3 linked regions of the Homo sapiens genome follow. The protein of the gene in region 1 interacts with the protein of each later gene in a pairwise test. Each region holds a gene or a part of one and is shown in the gene's direction. Other genes may lie near its edges.

Region 1 (6,343 bases):
ACATAGGGAAATGTCAGCCCTGGATTTCTGCTTCTGAAATTTTGGCGGGTTTCCACCGAGTGCTAAAGTGCTTAGGTTAGGTGCTCTGTTGTTCTCAAAGACCCAGTACTGAATTTTCACTGTGGCCTCCCAGTTTGTCTCCTCCCAGGGGGATCTGCTGCAGGAGGTATGTGCCAAGTGTCCCATCACCCAAAAAGAGCTGCTGTGAACTGAGTGTATCCATGTATAGTCCCTGTACCTCACCCTTTTATGCATTCACTGTGTAATTATTAAAACTAGCAGGCAGGTGCTGTTATTGGCCCGATTTTATACGAGAAGGAGACTGAGACACTGGGAGGCTAAGTAACTGGCCAGGACACATGGCTAATTAGTTATCTGGGCCAGGATCCAGCCAGATCTATCTGACTTCAGAGGCCAGAGCCCCCACAATTCACCACTATACATCCAAGCCGAACCAAATCTAGAAGGCATGTGTTCAGTAAGGGTTAAGTTTAATGTTGCTGCTGAATAGAAAGGGGAAGAGGGGAAGCTTTATGAGATGCAGTAAAGAGGCTGCTTTATACCTATAGTCTTTGCTTCTTTTCTATAACTTCATCATAAATAGCTTAATTAGAAGTTTGTTTTAGAAAATTCAGACTAAACATCTTCTTACACTCTAACCCTACTTTGACTCATTAACCTCTATTTACTGTAAGATGAGAGAGAGTGTGTGTGCTGTTCTGGTTGTCTGCCACCAAAGAGTCACAGTGAAACTTTTTGGTAATGGTTAATATTTGATTTTTCATTCCTGATAGCAATATGTCAGAATATATGGCAAGAGGTGTGAATAATTTGAAGTATTTATTGTTTTTATCTCTGTGTTTTATTTCAGGGTTGATTGTGAAAGAAATTGGGTCTTCCACCTCGAGCTCTTCAGAAACAGTTGTTAAGCTTCGTGGCCAGAGTACTGATTCTCTTCCACAGGTATTAAAGGAATTGAAAAATATCAGTTAGGAAACTGAAGTTATAGAAAATTTTAAGTAGTAACTTACATTTATACAAATGAGCAAAAATTAAAAACCCTAAGGAAATGATCCTTCCTAGATACGTACATTCTAGCTTTATTCTGAATTTATTTCCATCTTATTTGCTAGTTCTGCTTATCTTTGAGTTGATTTTTACTTAGATAAGTTATAGATTTTGCTTCACATTTTATATGGTTGGGAAGCCTCTGTTCTTCAGGCTTCAGGCGAACCACGTGTGCACATGCATGTGTCTGTGTGTGTTGCTTGTCCTCAACCTGGGAGAATAATATTTTTTGTCAGTGTGTTCTGGCAGAAATGTTTCCACACTCTGGTTATTCCATTCAGATTGAATTTTCAAAGTATGCTGAGCCTAGAGCATTTGACAACCTGTGATCATTGGTTAAACTATTAAATGTCCAGCAATATAGATAAAATACTCTGAAACTCATGGTTTCAGCATTTGGATGTAATGTATGACTAATGGCCCTAATTCCTGAGCACTTCCTCCCTCCTCCTGCCTTTCTTTCTTGGGCTCTCTTTGTGTCTTGTTTTTTTCCCTTCTGTGTGTGTTTCTCTTTTTTCATTTGCATTCTGGCTCTCCTTGTCCCTACTTTTCTCTTCCTCTTTCCTCCCTTTTTTCTCATTTGTCTTTTCTTTCTCTTACTTGCGTTGAAGTAACCATAATGTGAAAATGATGTTTATGAAATATTTTCCTGAAAACTGCAATGAGTAATCTACTCTTAAGAGATGTTTCTGGGGCACAGCTGATAGTCAGATTCCACACCTACACTATGGGGAGAACTTTGTGTGCCTTCCTTGAGAGTTTGTGGGGATGACCAAATGATTCTATGTGTGAAATCCTGTTGGAGTCTGGGAAGACAGCATCAGCACAAGGGATCACTCGGATGTGACACTTCCTAGTAAAACATGCTTCTGGAACTTTTGCCTCTAGCAAAAATTGTATCTTATTCTAACAGGGTTGTCCTTTGTGGTGGGAAGCAGCAAAATTTAAAGATATAATACCTGGTTTCCTTAAATAACCCATTGCATATCTTCCATTCATATAATTATCAGAATCATTTTTAACCTATTTCTAATACCACCTCTTGGGATAATAAAAAAAAGTCTGCCCCCTGCTGTGTACAGCATTTGGCGGAACCCCCCCACCCCCGACTCGTGTTCGGGAACTTAGTCCTGGTGCCTGCCTCCCAGCCTCTTCAACACCAAGAACACCCTATATCCTACCCAGCACCAAGAACACTTTATATTCAACCCAAGAATTCTGGCCTTTTAAAGAGAAAAACTGTGTTTCTTGGTAATAATTGGTTTATTTTCCTATTTCTTAATAAAATAATAACAGACCTTGGCCTAAAAGGTCTGAATTGCCATATCCTACTGAAAAAAAAAAAGGAAGCCATGTCTTTACCTATATGACCTTATTTCAAGATAATTACTTGATTTCTGAAATGCTAGGGATAGTTGGATTCCTGTTGTATTTGCACCTCTGTGCTTTGGATTATTTGTAAAATGAGGAGAATGATAGTGCCTGCTTCCTAGGACTGTTAGGAAGATTAAATGAGTTAATGCATGCCGAGTATTTAGGTCAGGGCCTGGCACATAGTAATTGCTCGGTAAATGTTAGCTGCTATTATTACTGATGGAGGTGGTGTTGATGATATATTTCCCCATACAGCCCAGAAACCACAGATTGGAAACCACTTTCTAACATGTAAGGATTACTTAACCTTTTGTGGTTCTGTAGCATCTCTCTTTACAAGGCAAATATTCTAACCTTTCACTTTAAAGTTGTTTCATCCTTCCCTTATCTTGCAGACTATATGTCGGAAACCAAAGACCTCCACTGATCGACACAGCTTGAGCCTCGATGACATCAGACTTTACCAGAAAGACTTCCTGCGCATTGCAGGTCTGTGTCAGGACACTGCTCAGAGTTACACCTTTGGATGTGGCCATGAACTGGATGAGGAAGGCCTCTATTGCAACAGTTGCTTGGCCCAGCAGTGCATCAACATCCAAGATGCTTTTCCAGTCAAAAGAACCAGCAAATACTTTTCTCTGGATCTCACTCATGATGAAGTTCCAGAGTTTGTTGTGTAAAGTCCGTCTGTGTGCAGCTGTACAGGCAGCTTACTGTTTGCTAGAGGATGCGAAAGTCATAAGTTCTTTACATATTACTTGTGCCATATCTTCTTCACCCTAAACATAGCTCTTTCTTTATAATATTTGTGATGATGGAAACAAAAGCCTTGGAACAATTGCACTTTAAGTATTACACAGAAGTAAAAGAACTACAGAAAATGTACAGCAAGACAAGTGCCCGGAAGTTCACTGATCCTTCAGAAGGAAATGCGCTTTACTGATTGCAAAGCCTTCAGAATATTGGAGTGTGGTGTGTTTGCTCATCTGATGCTTTTTAGTTCAGTTACATGTAACATCACATTTTTTTATCACGTGAAAGATGTTAGATTTGTTTGCTTATAAATTTTTTACCACTCCCACATAAAATGCTCATAGTTTGGGAGAGGAAAGAGGGAAGATTCTCTCTTCTTTTAACAGAGAGATGATTGCTCTGTATACCCATTGCTTCCTCCCTGAGGCTGTCCCAAAGTGAACACTGATGGAGTGGTCAAAATCATAAGGTTGTAGCAAGCCAAAGATACGTATGTGACAGAAGCACATAAGCAATAAGCAGAAAACCAGAAGTGCATGCTGTGATGCCTGTGACTCCTTCATCCCGCTCAGTGCCATGTCCTCTTTTGTGATCTTCCAGAAAGCTCCAGGATTCATTTGAGTTCCACATCCAAGTAACAGATGAATTATATTCATGTTGTAATGCATTTTGTGGAGTTTACAAAACCAGTGTCTGTTAAAACTTTGGAAAATGTCTTAGAAAACGTTGGTGCTTGGTGATGCTTTATTTGTTTAATTATCAAGAACAAATTATGGCAATGCTAGTTTCTGCTTAACCAAAATACTCTGTGTATATATTATACATATATAAATACATGGGATTGTGTATGTCTATATGTGTTTAAAGCTTACTATGTCTTCATTTTGGCTTCCATGACTATCTTTTATACATGGAATTCCTTAAGATTGAGAATATGTCACTGAGTGAATGATACCTGCAGACAGTCAGTTGATATATGTAGAGTTCAGAATGACTGTTTTCTCATGTGCCTTTGGCCATGATTCTCAACACTGATTGTATAACAGAATTTTGGGGGGAGCTTTTAAAAAATAATGACTGAGTCTCCCACCAGACCGATTACATCATTCTCTTGTGGCGGGACCCAAGTAGAATTGCCTTTTCTTTTAAAGTTCTCCAGATGGAGCTAATATGCAACAAAGTTGAAAACCACTGATCCTGGGGGTGTCTTGTTAATTTTGAAGTAAAAGTGTACAGAAGACGTAGTGTATGAGAAAGGGCCATTTTTAAGACAGTTACCTGTTGTGCTGCTGTTACAATATATAATGAAACCAAGTCAGGGGAGTGAATTTATCAATCTTTTGATGTAAAGTAAAAACGTAGTTCACACTTCAGGAGAGAACTTCATAGCACAATGTCTTTCTATAAGATATTTTTAATGATTTAGTATTTTACAACATTTGTTTACCATATTTTGATATACCATTTTTTTCTATCTGCCCAGTTTTATTAAAAAAACTATATATTATTTTCTAAAGAAACAATCATATTTTTATACAAAATTATGTTTTCAGGTAACGAAATAGATGTAGGGTACAGTGGAACATAAGCAGTGTTACCCCTGGCTGGGAGTCAGTATTATACAACAAATGGTGAGCTGGAACATGCCCTGTCTGTGCTGTCCCTCCTGTGCTGGGTCGCGGATGTGTAGGCAACATTGCCTTATCACGCTAGGTTCACCTGACACTTTAAAAGGAAAAAAAGTTCCATAGAGTTCTGTGGTCACAAAATTGTTTTGCTTTTATCAAATACTTTAATAGAACCAAAGTTGCAGATATTGGAATGTATGGAAGTATCTCAGTCTCTGCATAAGAGGATTAAAGTATGAAAGGATCATTTAATGACTGTTTTACTTATAAGTCATTAAGTAATCCACCATTTCTTATGGATGATGCTTAAGCCTGGTGAGGTTTGTACTCTAAGGAGCCCAGATCATAATGCAGTGCATTTCCTTAGCCCTTAGAGTTTCTTGCAAACATTTAAAAAAAGACATATTTAAGAAAGAAAGATAAAGAAAAAACATATTTAATTACTGTAAACAGGTACTGCTTTATGTTTATTTTCTCTCTACTTCAACCAAAATCAGATCTTTGAGGTTTTGCTGACATTGTTGGTGGTTTTGCACATGTTCTTTCTAATTGGATTTATGAATAGTTCTATGGGTTTTCAAAGATGAATCATGCTAAGAACACTTCTGCTTTTTGATCCACTGTTTGCAGCAGAATTATATATATGTATAGGAAAAATCCACTTTGAATAATCCATGTTTTGTATTTGGAAATTGTTTTTAAAAATAAAAAGGAAAGGAAATATATAAAGCTGTTATTTATTCTGCATTTCTTACATATCTATCGCTTGTCAGTATACCCGTTTTGGTATATATTGCCTCTGCACATCTACATTTGTATATGCAACAGTGAGCTTTATATCTACATAAACTGTAAATAATCCTTTCTGTGAAAGGATCATCATATCAAGATGATACCAAAAGTATGTAAAAAGAAACCTGCATTATTTTGTAATTATTTCTTATAGATATTTCATGGTAAGATTAGCAGTCAATAAAGTTACTTTTTTGCCTTTAAATTGCCTTTTTGATTATTAGAGCTCTCAAGCGAGAAGCATTAAGGAGTGACAGTGTTTTCTTCATGTTCTTTGCTGTAATGGAGCACAGTAAAGGACAACAAGGTTCCATGTGATAGAATTCCAAGTAAAACAGTCCTGGTGGTGACGATGGTAATAACTGATGCTGAGTACTACCATGTGCCAGACCCAGTTTCACATGTATTCAGATTTCATGTGTTCAGTCATTTAATCCTCATATCCCCAGAAGGCAGGTACTATTATTATTCTTAGTTGCAGATGTGAAGGAATCAAGCTTCCAGGAGTTTGTGGTAGTCAGCCACTGTTGAGTTCAAATTATGGAGCTGAAAAAAACTCTCCTTTAAAAGGAAATATTTTAACCAAAATAAGTAACTTAAACCTGAAAACCGTCATCATTGGACTGTTGGTTTAATTATAAAATAAACAAATGGTTGCATTTAAAAGCATGCATTCACAAAGCTGAACGTGAGGGCAGCATGGCATTAAGGAAAGAGCCCAGAGTTGA
Region 2 (7,025 bases), on another chromosome or scaffold:
ATTCCCTTACCACTTCGAGGATTTCAATTTTTTCACAAGCCACGTACCACCTATACTATGATGATGATGATGATGATGATGATGATGATGATGATTATGATTATTATTTTAGACAGGGTCTCACTCTGTCGCCCAGGCTGGAGTGCAGTGGTGCGATCTCGGCTCACTGCAACCTCTGCTTCCCAGGTTCAAGTGATTCTCCTGCCTCAGCCTCCCCAGCAGCTGGGATTACAGGCGCCTGCCACCACGCCTGGCTAATTTTTTGTATTTTTAGAAAAGAGGGGGTTTCACCATGTTGGCCAGGCTGGTCTCAAACTCCTGACCTCAGGTGATCCACCCGCCTTGGCCTCCCAAAGTACTGTGATTATAGGCATCAGCCACCACGCCCAGCCCTACCTATGCTATTATTAACTTAATTTTTTTTCTATAAATGGGCTCATTTTTATTTTTACTTTAAAAAAATCATATGAAAAGGAAACATTATGTCACTAATATCATAGGAAACCAAGATCATGTGACATCGCAGAAGGCAACTAGAAGAATAAACCCAATGGGAATAATGCCACATTACTGAATTCTAGGTGGACGTGGCTGTCTCCAAGCCTCTGGACAAGATCTACTTTCTTTGTTTAAAAGAAAGGGGATGGGGGAGGGTGGAAATTGGTAAGTGGTAAAAGATGTTAACATGTAGTGGTACCAAATTGAGACTTTCTCCTCCTTAAAGGAGAATCGGAAAAAAGATAATAACTTTCTCCCTCTTGATTCAAAGTTCTGAGTTTGAGTCCCACCTCAGTTCACCTCTGGGACATGCCCGAGGTTGGGATGCAGTACTTCTAACCTATCTAGCCTACTTGGCCCATTTGGAAAACCACCTTAAAGAGAAGGAGGGAGTCTGTGCCTTGAGAACCCAGGAGACGAAGATGGGGAGGCGGGGTGGGGCCACAACAGGAAGGGAGGACCTCCTTCCTCAAGAGGACCAGATTAGGGCTTCCTTTTTAGTTCCCTCTATTTGTGGGTGGTGATAGGAAACACCCCACCATCACCATTGGAGCAGAATTGGAAGGTAGGGCCTCCGGGAGGGCGGGGGAGCCAAGTAACATCCACTGTGTGCCTGCCTGCATGTTAGCTAATCATGTCCTTTTGGGTTGGCTACATGGCTATTTCTGTATAGGAAGGTTTGCTCTTCTCCTGAAGTGTGGCTGCATTGGATAGCATGACTATCTATCCGCCCGCTCTGATTCATAACAGCATACGGTGCAAATCAAATCGAAATGCTAAAGTTTCCCATTTATTTGGTGTTGGTTAACCAGGAGGCTACCAGCAGCCCTGAAAATAGCAACACCTTGTTAGGATGTTAGGAAGTCAGCTCCCTTCCCAGGATGGTAAGTGGAAATATGCAGGGCTTTTTTTTTTTTTTGTAAAATTTTTTTGAGTTGCTGGAATATTGCTAAACTGGTCTTGTCTCTCTTTCTTTAACCCCTTCGTTCCCTTACGCCCTTGGCTTCATCGTGGATCTTAAAAGGGCAGTTGGAACCATTAAACGAGGTGGGTTCATTTGATGATTTGTTTGGTCTGGTTTCTAATCAAGAAATGCCTGACTTTCATTTTGGAGTCTTATGTGGGGCTGTGGGGATATTGAATATTCAACAATAACCTGGTGTTAATAACGGCACAGTTTCCATTCCTTTCTACCGAAAGGAGATCCCGGTTTTGAAAAGACACCAGTTGACAAGACAAGTTTCCCTCTCCACCCCTACTTATTCCGTTTGATTATCTCTGTCTGTTTCATGTCACCGAGATTTTTTAAAAATATTTTTTCCCCTGCTTTCAAGAAGACACAGTAATATTCATTGTGTTTCGAACATATCGTATAGCCCTTATGATGTTGTATAAACCACCCACATGTCAAGAAAGACGTTCACATAAACTACAAAAGAAAATACCTGCAAATGTTTTGCTTGCTACTAACGGCTCCAGCGAGTTGATGTTTGCTATCTTTGTGCCTGCAGTTGGTAAATAGAAATGGAAAACATTTTGTTCTAAGTGCTGAGCAGCAGAGCCAGAACTCCTGAATGTCTATTTCTCATCCGAGATCGGCTGCTTGTAATTTTGGGTGTTGTTTCTCCTCTTCCTCTTCCCCACCCTGCCCACCTCCCCTCTCCCCCATCCCCCCGCCCACCTCCCCCAATGGCCTCAGGGTTTTCTTTCTAGAATCTCTGGTCTGCTGCTGTGCAGATGGACCTGCCGGCACTGCTGTCAGAAGTGCTACGAGTCCAGCTGTTGCCAGTCAAGTGAGGATGAAGTTGAAATTCTGGGACCTTTCCCTGCTCAGACCCCTCCCTGGCTGTAAGTAAAACTGCTCTGAACTTCTCTGAAATCAATTTCAAGACTTTTCCTTTTTAATGAGAAGGCGGGTTGGGGGTCTGGGCCACGGGAGGGAGGATTTGGGGGCATGAAAGAGAAGCAGGCTGAGTTTCCAGGGACAACTTTGCTGCAGACTGGGGATATGTTCTGTACCCCTCATTTTGTTCGGCAAGCTGGCGAGACCAGCTGGTGGTGTGGTTTTAGTTCACCTAGTGGCACATCGGGCCTTCTGAGATACGAACCGTGTAATGCTAAGCGTGTGGGCGTTTTTAGTCACGTGGAGCGTGGTTCCGAGCAGAAAAGGAGATCTGTGAGCCGAGCCTCTATATTCTTCAGGGGCTGACCGCATTCTGAGGGTTTCCATCCAAGTCAGCGTGACAAGATTCCCTAGCACTTAGCCCAGGGCCTGCACATAGTAAAAGCTCGATAAATATCCATTGCATGGATGGGTAGACGGAATGAACAAACAAGTGCCTTTTTGCTGCTCCGAACAAGAACTTCAGAAACAGGGAAGCAGAAAAGCACCTCCAGGCTCCATCCTGTCCTCCAACGCTGTTTATGTTCTCTCTGGCATCTTTCGTTTTATTTCTAATTTGCTCTCCTCCCGCGCCTGCATACAACATCTCCATCTGCCAGTCGCTCAGATATTTTGGGAACGCAGTTTTGAAGCTTCTCAGCCACGTGCCTGGTCCACCTCTCCGTGACTGAGAGAGGGACGTGGTCAGAGAGCCTGGGTACAGTCAAGAAGGTCGGGGCTGGGAAGGATCAAGAAGTCATCAAGTGAGCTTGTCATGCTTCGGAGGGGCAGGCCCAGAGAGGGAGACAGACAGCGGCCAGGACCCACAGCTGGAGCCTGGCAGAGTGGAAGGAGGCAGCGCTGTTTCAGCTCAGTCCTTGGCCTGAGATTCCAAAAGTCTCTGGTGTCCCATCTTTCCCTCCAAGCTGGGGGCTCATGCCTCAGGCCTCTCATTTTCTCTTCTTAGAAGCAAGTATCAAATATTTCCATAGCAAAATGGTTCTGTATCCAGGCTCTGTGGTCTCAACTACTATTTCGAGTTCTGTGACCTTGGGCAAGTGGTTTGATCTCTGTGTGCCTTGATTTCCCATCTGTGAAATGGGATGATAAAAAGAATAGTATTTCTCTCAGAGTTGTCGAAGGGAGTCAATGAATTTGGAATGTGGAAAAGTAGTTAGGAATGCTTGATACTTTGTTGGTGATCATACATGTAAGTAACTCTGGCTGGGCGCAGTGGCTCATGCCTGTAATCCCAGCATTTTGGGAGGCTGAGGGCAGGCGGATCACTTGAGCTCAGGATTTCGAGACCAGCCTGGGCCACATAGTGAGACCCCCCCCATGCCCCATCTCGACAAAACATCAAAAAATTAGCCGGATGTGGTGATGTGTGCCTGTGGCCCCAGCTACTCTGGAGGCTGAGGTGGGAGGATCGCTTGAGCCTAGGAGGTTGAGGCTACAGTGAGCTGTGATTGCGCCACTGCACTCCAGCCTGGGAAAGAATGAGACCCTGTCTCAAAAATAAATACATAAATAAATAAATGAGATATGCATATAATATGCTTAGCACAGAGCAAAAGTTTTATAAGCATTTATTTCTGTCAGTATTAGGTTTCAATAGAGATTAATTAAACTGATACAAACACAATGTTAAAGAACTCTTCCATTATTCATTATTCATAAGTTGTGGCCTGAATCCTACAGGTGTGTGTAGAGTTGAGATTTTTGGTGAAAGCAACTCATTAATCAAGAGATAATTCACAGCCGGGTGCCGTGGCTCTCATCTGTAATCCCAGTGCTTTGGGAGACTGAGGTGGGAGGACTGCTTGAGGTCAGGAGTTTAAGACCAGCCTGGGCAACACGATGAGACCCCTATCTCTACAAAAATTTAAAAAATTAGCTGGGCACGTTGGTGCCTAGAGTTCCAGTTCTTCGGGAGGCTGAGTTGGAAGGATCGTTTGAGCCTGGAAAGTCAGGGCTGCAGTGAGCTATAATCACGCCACTGCAGTCCAGCTTGCGCAACAGAGCAAGACTTCAAAAAAAAAAAAAAAAAAAAAAGGATTCTACTGGTCTATGTAGCAGAAGTTAGTTCAGTCCATCTGATGTCCTTAAAGCTATGCTCACAAGAATGCTATCTCCATGTGGGCAGGGAGTTTTGCCTGCCTTGTTCACTCAGAAAAAGTTGTTGACTGACAGACTATCCTGCAGGCAGAACTTGCATCCTGAAAGTGCCAATCATCAGTTGAAAAGTTAATCTCAGTTCCTTTTGTAGTTATTTCTTAAGTACAGTGTGCCAGGCGCTGTGGTATACACAGGGCTAGATAGGGTCCTGTGACCATGCTCAGGGAATTTTCAGTCTCACGTAGGAGGTAAGGCAGGTATGTAAGTCAGGTTGCCCCCTAGAGTTGTGCATTTACACCCTGCATTCCATATATGACAGTCCTGCATAAGACCTTGTTATGAAAGAATCAGGAATGATGGCTTCAGGCATAGCTGGATCCAGGAGCAGAAATCATGTCATCAGAGCCTTTCTCTCTCTCTCTTTCTTTCTCTGTTTCTTCTGTATTGGCCTCATTGTTAAGCTTGTTTTCTCCATGTGGCAGCACTAGACTTGCATTCTGTTGCGGTTGCATAAAAAACGAACAAACAAACAAAACAAAACCAGGAAAGACTCTTATTAGCCTGGCTCGGGTTATGTACCAATCACTTTCACTTGGAGGAAATGGTGCTAGAATCATGCCAGTTACCTGCCCACCCAGGAAACCAGGGAGATGGTCATTTCCACCAGAAACACAGGAACTGAACTATTAGACCAGGGGTTGGCAAACTTTTAAAGGACCAAATAATAAATATATTAGCCTCATGGGCCATATGGTCTCTGTTGCAGCTACTTATTTCTACCATTGTTATGCAGAAGCAGCTGTAGACAGTAAATGAACGGGCACGTCTGTGTTTCATTAACACTTCATTTACAAAATCAGGCAGTGAATTTGGCTTTGTAGTTTGCAGACCCCTGTAATAGACAATTGGGGTATTGTGACTAGAGGGGAGGAAATTGACTAGAGAGGTGGGCAGACATCACCCCTTGTAGAGATAGGCGTCTCATTGTGTTGCCCAGGCTGGTCTTAAACTCCTGACCTCAAGCAGTCCTCCCACCTCAGCCTCCCAAAGCACTGGGATTACAGGTGAGAGCCGCGGCAACCGGCTGTGAATTATCGCTTGATTAATGAGTTGCTTTCACCAAAAATCTCAACTCCACACACACCTGTAGGATTCAGGCCACAACTACATCTAGGAAGAGCTGGGGGAGCCTGCAAGCTTAGGCTGAGTTGGGTCTTGAATGCCAGAGTAAGGAATCTGGATTTTCTTCGATACCAGCGGAGACCCCTCACAGGTGTTGAGTATCACAGCCAGGTACCTGTTTGCCCCCTAGATATCCAAATGTTGAGTGTTACAGATGCACAGCCTAGGTTCTCATGTTGAGCTGGAGGACAGTTGCGTTTTGCCTTGACTGCTGCTAACCCTTTGTGTAAGCAGGGGCAAGGGGGCTGGGACCCTCTGGGAAGATACTTCTTTTGGTTTTGCCACTAGTAGAGAAGTGGACTGGAACTTTCCCAGCAGGGCCAATACACCACAAAATTCCAGGTGGCGCCATTCACATGGTGGCCATTATGAATGGCACCACCTAGGGTTGTGCAGTCTACAGACTGAACAGCTGTGCGTGACCTTTGTGCTTCCCAGGATGAATGAGGTCTCTTCTGAACACTGGGCAGTGCTTAATACAGTTTTGACACTCAGCATAATGCAAAACGGTAAGAGAAATCTGTAAAGGGAAGATGGCTAAATCATTCAGAAAGTAAATTTACAGCTTTGTGTTTTCCCCAGATTTATTTACCAAGTGGGCAGCTGCATGTTATCAAACAGACAGGAAGTAGAAATGTCAAGTGTATGGGCTTTGCAGTGCTGTTCCTACTGCGACATTTGAGCCAAGAACCATGGGACTTGCCTCTGTGGACTGGCATGTGGCAGATGAGCTGGCCCTTTGTGTGTGCTCTGCGTGTGATCTTGGGGATACATTAATTGTCACATATGCTCATGTCCTGTGGGCCCCCAACTTTTCTTGGCTGGGCTGGGCTGGTGAAGATTAGGAAAACTGCACAATCTGACTGGTGCTTTTTGAAGCAATGCCAGAAAGACCCTCATTGAAGAGTGAATTAAAGTCAAGTTGGTTGATTGTTTGTCGAACAAGCACATATTGAATGCCTACAATGTGCAGAGCTCTTACAGCCCTCTCAGAGATGCCCCACTTGGCGATTGGGAGTGTGTGCCATTTAGAGTTTAGCATTACTGGCTTAGCTGGGGTTCTGCCTTTTAACAGTGGTGCAAATTAGTTATTCATCCTTCTCCCAACCTGTATTAGTTTGTTTTCTGTTGTGATAAAGGGATACCCAAGACTGGGTAAGGTTCAAGTGATTCTCCTTTTTTTTTTTTTGAGACGGAGTCTAGCTCTGTCGCCCAGGCTGGAGTGCAGTGGTGCAATCTCGCTCACTGCAAGCTCTGCCTCCCGGGTTCATGCCATTCTCTTGCCTCAGCCTCCCGAGTAGCTGGGACTACAGGCGTCCGCCACCACGCCCGGCTAATTTTTTGT
Region 3 (7,864 bases), on another chromosome or scaffold:
GACCGAAGCACACAAGAAAAAGAAACAAAGGGTATAGAACATAAAATTCCTTGTGAGTTTCTTAAAGCCAGAGTTCATACCCCTGCAGTATTGTTATTAAAATATTTACTGGCGGTTTCTATCTGACCCAGTCAGATAACCGAGGCATCTAACTGGATCCAAGCCAGTTAATTATCAGATCCAATCAAATCCTGGACCCAGTCCAATGTCTATCGACTTCCAAACTCAGCTAAGATCAAAAATTTGCTCAAGCAAGCTTGAACAGCTGAAAACGGCAATGTATGGAGCTTCAGAATCTGAGAGAGAATGCAGCCACAATCTCCAGTTGCTGTAAGAGAGCAGTGGACACTGCGAGAGGACGGGCCCAGCAGGTACCCCTTGTGGTCACTCAGTGCTCCTGGGGGATCACTGGGAGCTCTACTTTGGGGTCCATTTCTGACACCATCTGTTAAAAGAAAAACTTCAGACAAATTAAATTTAGCAGAGCTCAATTGAACAAAGAATGACTTGTGAATCAGACAGACCCCTGAACCAGGATAGCTTTGGAGTGACTCCAGTGCTGCTGAGTGGTTGGAGAGAATTTATGGACAAAAAAGGAAAGTGACCTAAGAAAACAGAAGTAAGGTATAGAAACAGCTGGATTAGTTACACCATGACATTTCCCTTATTTGAGCATGGTTTGAACAGTTGGCCACCTCTGATTGGCTGAAACTTGGTGACTGGTACAAGAGTAGGTTACAATCTGTTTAATCATTGGGTTATAGTTCACTATGTATGAAGAACCTTTAGGTTAAACTTAAAATATTGAAGGAGGCAGCTTTAGGGTAAATTTAACACTAGGAAGCTGTAAGTAGTTTATTATGGGTGATACACAGAGTCGGGCAAGAAGGGGGGCAGAGGTGGAAAGACGGGTGAGACCAGGTAATAAAGAATCTTATGTTATATTCATAAGTCCATAATTTATTCCTGCCAGCACCACATACCTATTTGTTTAAAAATTTCATTTCCATAGCCCCCCTAGACTTCCTCATGAAGGAATTTCCTAAGACTTTGACCTTGATGAATTCTGATTCATTGACAATCCCTTCTTTATTTTCTTATTTTTATTTTTTCACTTTCTTATGGTCCTGAGACCACTCCTTTCTGAGTACAAGCATCTTGGCTGGCCTAGAATATAGTCACAACTGTGTTCCACGGACTTTACTGAAGGTGGAAACAACTGTCTTCCCAGCATCCCATCTGTACTGGTCCATTTGCATTGCTATAAAGGCAATTTATAATTCACAGTTTATTATGGCTCACAGTTCTGCAGGCTTATAGGAAGCATGGGACGAGCATCTGCTCCTGGTGAGGCCTCAGGGAGCTTCCAAACATGGTGGAAGGCAAAGGTGGAGTTGGCATATCACCTGGCAAGAACAGGAGCAAGAGAGAGAGGAGGAAGATCACAGACTCTTTTAAACATCCAGATCTTTCATGAACTCATTACTGCAGGGAAGGTACATAGCCACACAAGAGATTCCCCATCACCCAAATACCTTCCACTAGGTCCAACTCCAACATGGCGGTCACATTTCAACACGAAATTTGGAGGGAAAAAACATCCAAACAATATCACCATCTTACAGGCTGGTGTTGTCTGGTGGGCTGTTTGGGAAATACTGGTCTAGACACATTTCTCAAACTTGGCAATATGACTCCACTGGACATTAAAAAGGGATTTCCAGGTATTTCAAGATAAAGGGATTTATTCTCAGGAGCTGCAAACATAAGCTAGGTTTTCTTACAGTGTTAACATCTTGGTTTCAGTTACACGGGTCACCAGATTGATACAGATTTAGCTGAGGTAATAAATCACTGCTTCAGCAATCTTAACAGTCAAGTCAGTTATCTAACGATGATTTGACAAGTAATGAGGTCACCTGCCATTTCCTCCCATAAGTAATTCAACTGCATTTAGTTCATAATACATATGGCTAGAAAAGCATCTAAATCAATTCCTACGATCAGAGAGAGAGATGTCCCCATCACCATGAAGCAGAAGTTACAAAGAAATGGGGGAAGATGCTATGCAGTTGGCCTTAAACATAGAGAAAGGGACTATAAGCCAAGGAATGCAGGTGGCATCTAGAGGCTGAAAAGGGCAAGGAAATGGATTCTCCCCTCGATCCTCCAGAAGGAACACAGCCCACACTTTGATTTTAGATTTCTGACCTCCAGGTCTATAAGATGATCAATTCATCTCTCGATATGGCCTCCTCCTGTTCATTGCCACTGCTCTCCAGTTTAGACTCTCCCTTGGATCTGCCTCTTTTCTGAATCCATCCTCTCAAGTTGTTTTCTTAAAAATCAAATCTTATTATGTCACAGGGTTTGAAGTGCATGAATACTCACTGACTCTAGTTAGGCTCCTTTCCTGGAATATCATTAGAAACCAGAAGTAAGGGTTGTTTACAATTCCCATCAAGGACATTTGGTGTGATCTCAGGAAGGCTTAACAGGGATGTGATTATAGCTACCAAAAAAAAAAAAAAGCTTAAAACAAATTGTACTACACTCTGAAGAAAGAACGCATTAACCAAATGGGCTAGGTAGGGTAAAGATTTTTCTGCACTTATCCAGCACTGAATGGAGGCAAATTCACTGACTTTGGCAGCCATCAGTAAGACTGGAGGTGAGGATACCTGGATTTTTAGGAAGGGTTTTTCCTAAATAGTAGGTATTGTTATCCAATCAGGAAGTTCTGTCCTGATATAAATGCTCATCATATAAGAGTTAGTTATCAAGAGTCAGTCAACTTGCTCACCTCTAGATGTGGTAATACTGAGGTCCAGATCCTCCTGGTGATCAACACAAACTGGATTAAGAGTCAGCTACTCAGTCAGATCCTGAATCCTGGTCCAACGATAACCACACTCTTGCCTGCTACCTGCTTCAAGAAGTACACAAAAGAGGGATCACTACCACAGCCAAAGAAAGGAGGAAAGTTTTTTTTTTTTTTTTTTTTTTTTTTTTGAGATGGAGTTTCGCTCTTGTTGCCCAGGCTGGGGTGCAATGGCGTGATCTCGGCTCACTGCAACCTCTGCCTCCCAGGTTCAAGCGATTCTCCTGCCTCAGCCTCCCAGTTGCTGGGATTGCAGGCATGTGCCACCATGCCCGGCTAATTTTGTATTTTTAGTAGAGACGGGGTTTCTCCATGTTGGTCAGGCTGGTCTCGAACTCCCAACCTCAGGCAATCTGCCAGCCTTGGCCTCCCAAAGTGCTGGGGTTATAGGCATGAGCCACCGCGCCCGGCCAAAAGGCAGAAAGTTCTAAGAAGGAGAGGTCAACATTGGCAAATGCCACAAAGGGCACAAGATGGGAATTAAATTTTTCCATTAGATTTGGCAATTAAGCAATGGCTGATGTTGTTCAGTGGAGTGAAAGGCTGAGAAGGGAATGAGAGGTTAGGAAACATTCACCTTAAGGCTAGGCAACTCCTTTGAAAAGAGTCAAGTAGGGTTAAGGGAGGATCCATGCCCTCCAGGTTGACTTTTAAATCATATTCCCTTTGGTTTTGCATTTGAATCACAGTGAACTTTCTCCTCTCCAAATGTTGATTTGACAAATTTGAGTCTTACCATGGCTCTCTTCTCAGTCCACCTGCAGGTCAAGGAACTAATGAGGTGTGGAGTAACTAAAGGTCAAAAAACAAGAGGAAGAAACAAAGGGCCAAAAAACCCCAAACCTTAAATCAGGTCCTGAGTCAGATACGCTGTAACAAATTCTGCTTCAAGTTTAATATTCTTGTTTTGATGATGTTTAAAAAAAGAAAAATAAAAGCAAGTGTCTGGAAAATTAAAAGGCGGGGTGGGGGGGGGCATTTTAATTGGAATGCTTTCTTGTATCTCATCCACTATCCGCACCCCATCGCCCTGCAAATTAATAGCTGTTGCGGAGTTGGGGTATGTGTGACCACAAAATCCAAAGGCTGAATTTTGCCCAGTGCCTGAGTAATTGCATGCCACACACAAAAAAACAGTAGAATATTGAAAACAACATACACATCTGTATTTCCATATGAAAGCACCCGTTTCCTTTCTTGATTATCTGCTATTTTTAAAGGGGTTGGGAGTGCAGCGGGGCGGGGGGATGAGGCGTTTTTTCTGAATACGAGCCCAGCTCTTTCTAAACTTTTGTTACTCACGTCCGTTTGATTCATTTGCTGTGTTTTTTCTTTCTTTCTTTTTTTTTTTCCCCTCTCCTGCCTCTGTCATTGCCTGCTGCTAAGAGGGACGCTGAATCACAGCCACTGCAGATGAAAAGCAATTCAAACCCAGTCCTTGGAGGGGGGATGGAACGGCTCTTTTTGATTTTTTTCCCCTCTGCAGAAAAAGCCTCCTACTTTCCGGGTGACCGTAGAGGGCAGTTTGACAAGTCTCAGCCCCGGGCGATGGAAGATTTTGCCCGTGGGACCGTCACGAGCCACCGGTCATCTCCCCGCGCCCGGCTTTCGGGTCCTCAGGCCTCGGTGCGTCGCGGGCCAGGCGACAGCGGGGGGGCGTCGCGGGCCGGGCGAGCGTGGCCCGGTGGGCCCGAGGGTCGCGCCGAGCTCCCCGCCGCTTTAAAAGCTCCCACAATGCAGCGCTGGCGTCCCAGTTCCGTTACGAGGTCTCTCCCGGCGCCGGCGAGCGGGCCAGGCGCGGGCGGGGCGCGGAGGAGCGGCGGCTGAAACCCGAGCGCCCGGCCGAGGGGGGCGCCCCCGCGCCGCTCCTCTCGCGCGCTCAGCCGCTGCCCGGCGAAGGGGCGGAGCCGCCTGGCCGCCCGGCCCGGCCCGGCCCGGCCCGGCCCCCAGCCCGGCCCCCAGCCCAGAGGCACCGGCCGCGGGAGCGAGCGGGTCGCCGACTCCTACGCCCGCGCTCCTCCTACGCCCGCGCTCGTCCGGCGCCCCGCGCCGCGCCCCGCTCAGCGTCTGCCGCCCAGCTCCTCGCCCAGCCTCGCCGAGCCTCGCCCTTCCCGCCCGCGGCGGCGTTGGCGCTGGGGGCGGCTCCCGCGGCGTCTCTGCCGCTGGCCGAGCGCTCGCGCACCGCGGCACCCCCGCCAGTGGCGTCCACACTCACCTAGCGCGGGCCGGGAGGTGCGCGGAGAGGGAACGCCGGGGGGCCGGGGCCTCCAGCCGGTGCGGGGCGCGCGGCGCGGGGAGCGCCGGGGAGTGCCGGGGAGTGCGGCGCGGGGACGGGCGCTGGGCGGCCGCGGAGCTCCGGGTGCCGCCGCGTCCCCAGCGCCCCGGCCGGCCCCTCTGGGCGGCCTGCGGGGGCGGCGCAGTTGCGAAACTGAGTAAGTATTAACTTTACTTAGCGGCGGCGATCCGGGCTGCGCCGGGGACCCCGCCCGTCCCGCCTGCAGCCTCGGAGCTGCCCTCCGCCCGGTTGCCCCTCTCTCCGCACCTTGGGTACCTCGTCCGTTCCGCCCCCACCCTGCCCCGCCGCGGGCTCCCGCTCCCTCTGCGTTCACCTTTCCTGGTGTGTCACCCTTTGCGCCTCTCCTCGCGGCACACAAGCCGCGGACTGAAAAGTACGAGCTTGGTCTTTGCTTTTCTGCTTCCTCCCAGTGTCCTTGGCAAGGGAGTTTAGAGGCCACTTTTCTTGCAAAGGGAATTTTATGTCTGGTTTTTAAAATATTTTTTCCTCCGGATGGAAATCGGATGCTCGCTTGCCGGGTGGCGGTTTGGTGAACGCTTTTCTCCTCTAAAAAAATATTGGTTTATAGGTTTTTAAATTTCATTTGAACTATTAACCATCTGCATTCTATTCTCCTTTGCCGCCAGTCCCTTTGGGGAGGGGAGTCCAGAAGAGGGGACGTTCAAAGTAATTCTGACTTGCAAACTAGAAAGTTTGAGAGGGTAAATCGCACAAAGCCGGAAGATTCAACTTGAAGGGACGCGAGCTTTGAATGTGGGTCCTGGTGCGGCACTGGGTTTTAAAAGATGAGTACTTGGGTTCGGAATCCAGTGTTGCGTTGTTATTTTAGCATCATAGAGCCGCCTGGTGTTGCTAAACCACTACTTTCCCAGCCTCAAATGGCATCTTGAACAGTGCAACGTAGGATATATAATTGCGGGTCAATATTGTTGCTGATCTTTAGGGATTTAGAAGCGAAATGAATGCAAATCACGTCTCATAGCTGACTTAAACCTGTCAGGTTAGCCCTGTCAGGTTAGCATTAAAGCATTTCATTAAAAAAAAAAATCCTCTAGCCCTGTGACAGCAGGGACGAACATTTATGGATTTTCCAGTAGATTGTGGCTCAGCAATTCATTAGATCTGCTTTGTCCCCAGGAAGCATTTTAAAATATGTATAAATCTCTGCTTTTCTCTCCATTAGATTAACCACTCATTCTGGTAGGGGGCCCCAGGTAGTTTTTATTTTCTTTTTTGCCTTTCATCTTGGAGTTGCCAGGAGTTGCCATCATGTTATGAAGGAACAGAAAATGAGAAGCTTTCTTAATGGGTTTTCGACATCCTGTCCTTTGCCAGAGTGAGGCGGTAGTGAATGCCAGCCAGCTTTCTGCAGGGAGAGGTGCAGGGTGGACGCAAAAATCAGGACGCAGGAGACAGCACTATCATTTGGGGAAGTGGTTTGTGTGAGTTTTATCTTTTAGCGGGCATACTAATGGTACTTTTAATTTTATTTATCTCTATGAGGCACACTCCCCAAACCATAAAATTACACATGACCATCCCCCACTTGAAGAAGACTGAACATAGTTTGATGATTATTCTATTCAAGGATCAAGTACAACAAAATATAATTTGTAATACAGATGATAAAACCTTTCAAAAATCTCCCCCTTCCTCATTTTTTTCCTCAAGAGTCTCCAGGTGGTACTTTCTGTGATGGACACAATTGGCAGTAATGCACTGAGTTCTTTCTAGGTTTATTGATCAAATCTTATGTCTGGGCTTTAGTAGCTTAGGGGTGCATTAGAGGGCCCTGAGAGGGAGCAAATCATGGGGCTGTGCAGGCAGGAAAGGCACTTCACTTTGCAGAAGTGTCAGTGTGCTTCTGGAAAAAACAGTTACAAAGAACAGAGAGTGTTTAAGTTGTTTATAGGATGCATGTTTCCTGAATTTGGCATTTGGTTCAGATATTTGGTAATTACAGATTTAAAATTCGACATGGTTGTATAATTTGTTTTGCCTTTTATTTATTTTTTTAAGGTTGCAACCTTTTAACCTGAATCTTCAGTGTTTGGCTCTTGTAGGCTTCTATACGTGGTGACTTACGTCAGTTTTTGACCTGACTGCCTTGTGTTTTGAGAAATGATTAGTTCTTCAGGGTTTCTGACTCATTAATTGATCTGTTTTATGTTGATGTATATAATGACTTGGAAGTAAAAATATTGTTTGCCGTGGGATATTGTTGTCTTTTTCTTATGGTTAATTCCTGGCATAATGGCTTTGCTCCTTTATTATAAAACATTAAGATCTTAGATATCTTGCTAGTGTTCAAAACATTACAAAACTCTTTGCAAGTAAAAGTGGAGTGGGAATGGGAGTTGGATAGAAAAACATGCATCATAAATTAAAGATTTGGATTACAAAATAATATAACGTTTATTTACTCTTCTTTGATGCTAACTTGCTCTAACCCTAAATAGACTTAAAAATTCAAAGTGTAGAGAGAGTTTCCAAGTATTCTGTATAGTGGAAAGAATGTTTACCCCACTGCCAGCCAGACTTGGGTTGCACGTGTGACTTTGTCACTCCCGAGGTGAGTGAGCTCGGCCATGCCACTTCAGCCTCTGTGATCTACAGTTGCATTTCTGGAAAATGGGGATACCACTACTTAAAGGGATGCTATGGTGAGTAGAACATCTAATATATAT

The links. Proteins that work in one complex are often made in the same cells at the same time.
Region 2: the proteins of FRMD6 (region 1) and SYT17 interact in binary tests that used the Homo sapiens proteins (3 or more experiments, as listed by UniProt).
Region 3: the proteins of FRMD6 (region 1) and RASSF8 interact in binary tests that used the Homo sapiens proteins (3 or more experiments, as listed by UniProt).

Annotation. Positions count from the first base shown.
Region 1 is NC_000014.9:51,724,908-51,731,250, forward strand, and holds the end of FRMD6 (FERM domain-containing protein 6), read left to right. Parts: intron 1-871; coding exon 872-963; intron 964-2,697; coding exon of another isoform or gene 2,698-2,730; exon of another isoform or gene 2,731-2,837; coding exon 2,838-3,122; 3' UTR 3,123-5,820; downstream 5,821-6,343.
Region 2 is NC_000016.10:19,171,233-19,178,257, forward strand, and holds part of SYT17 (synaptotagmin-17), read left to right. Parts: intron 1-1,102; exon of another isoform or gene 1,103-1,351; coding exon of another isoform or gene 1,352-1,382; intron 1,383-1,396; exon of another isoform or gene 1,397-1,522; coding exon of another isoform or gene 1,523-1,527; coding exon 1,528-1,545; intron 1,546-2,197; coding exon 2,198-2,346; intron 2,347-7,025. UniProt on the Homo sapiens protein: Plays a role in dendrite formation by melanocytes.
Region 3 is NC_000012.12:25,953,836-25,961,699, forward strand, and holds the start of RASSF8 (ras association domain-containing protein 8), read left to right. Parts: upstream 1-4,846; 5' UTR 4,847-5,313; intron 5,314-5,490; exon of another isoform or gene 5,491-5,607; intron 5,608-7,864.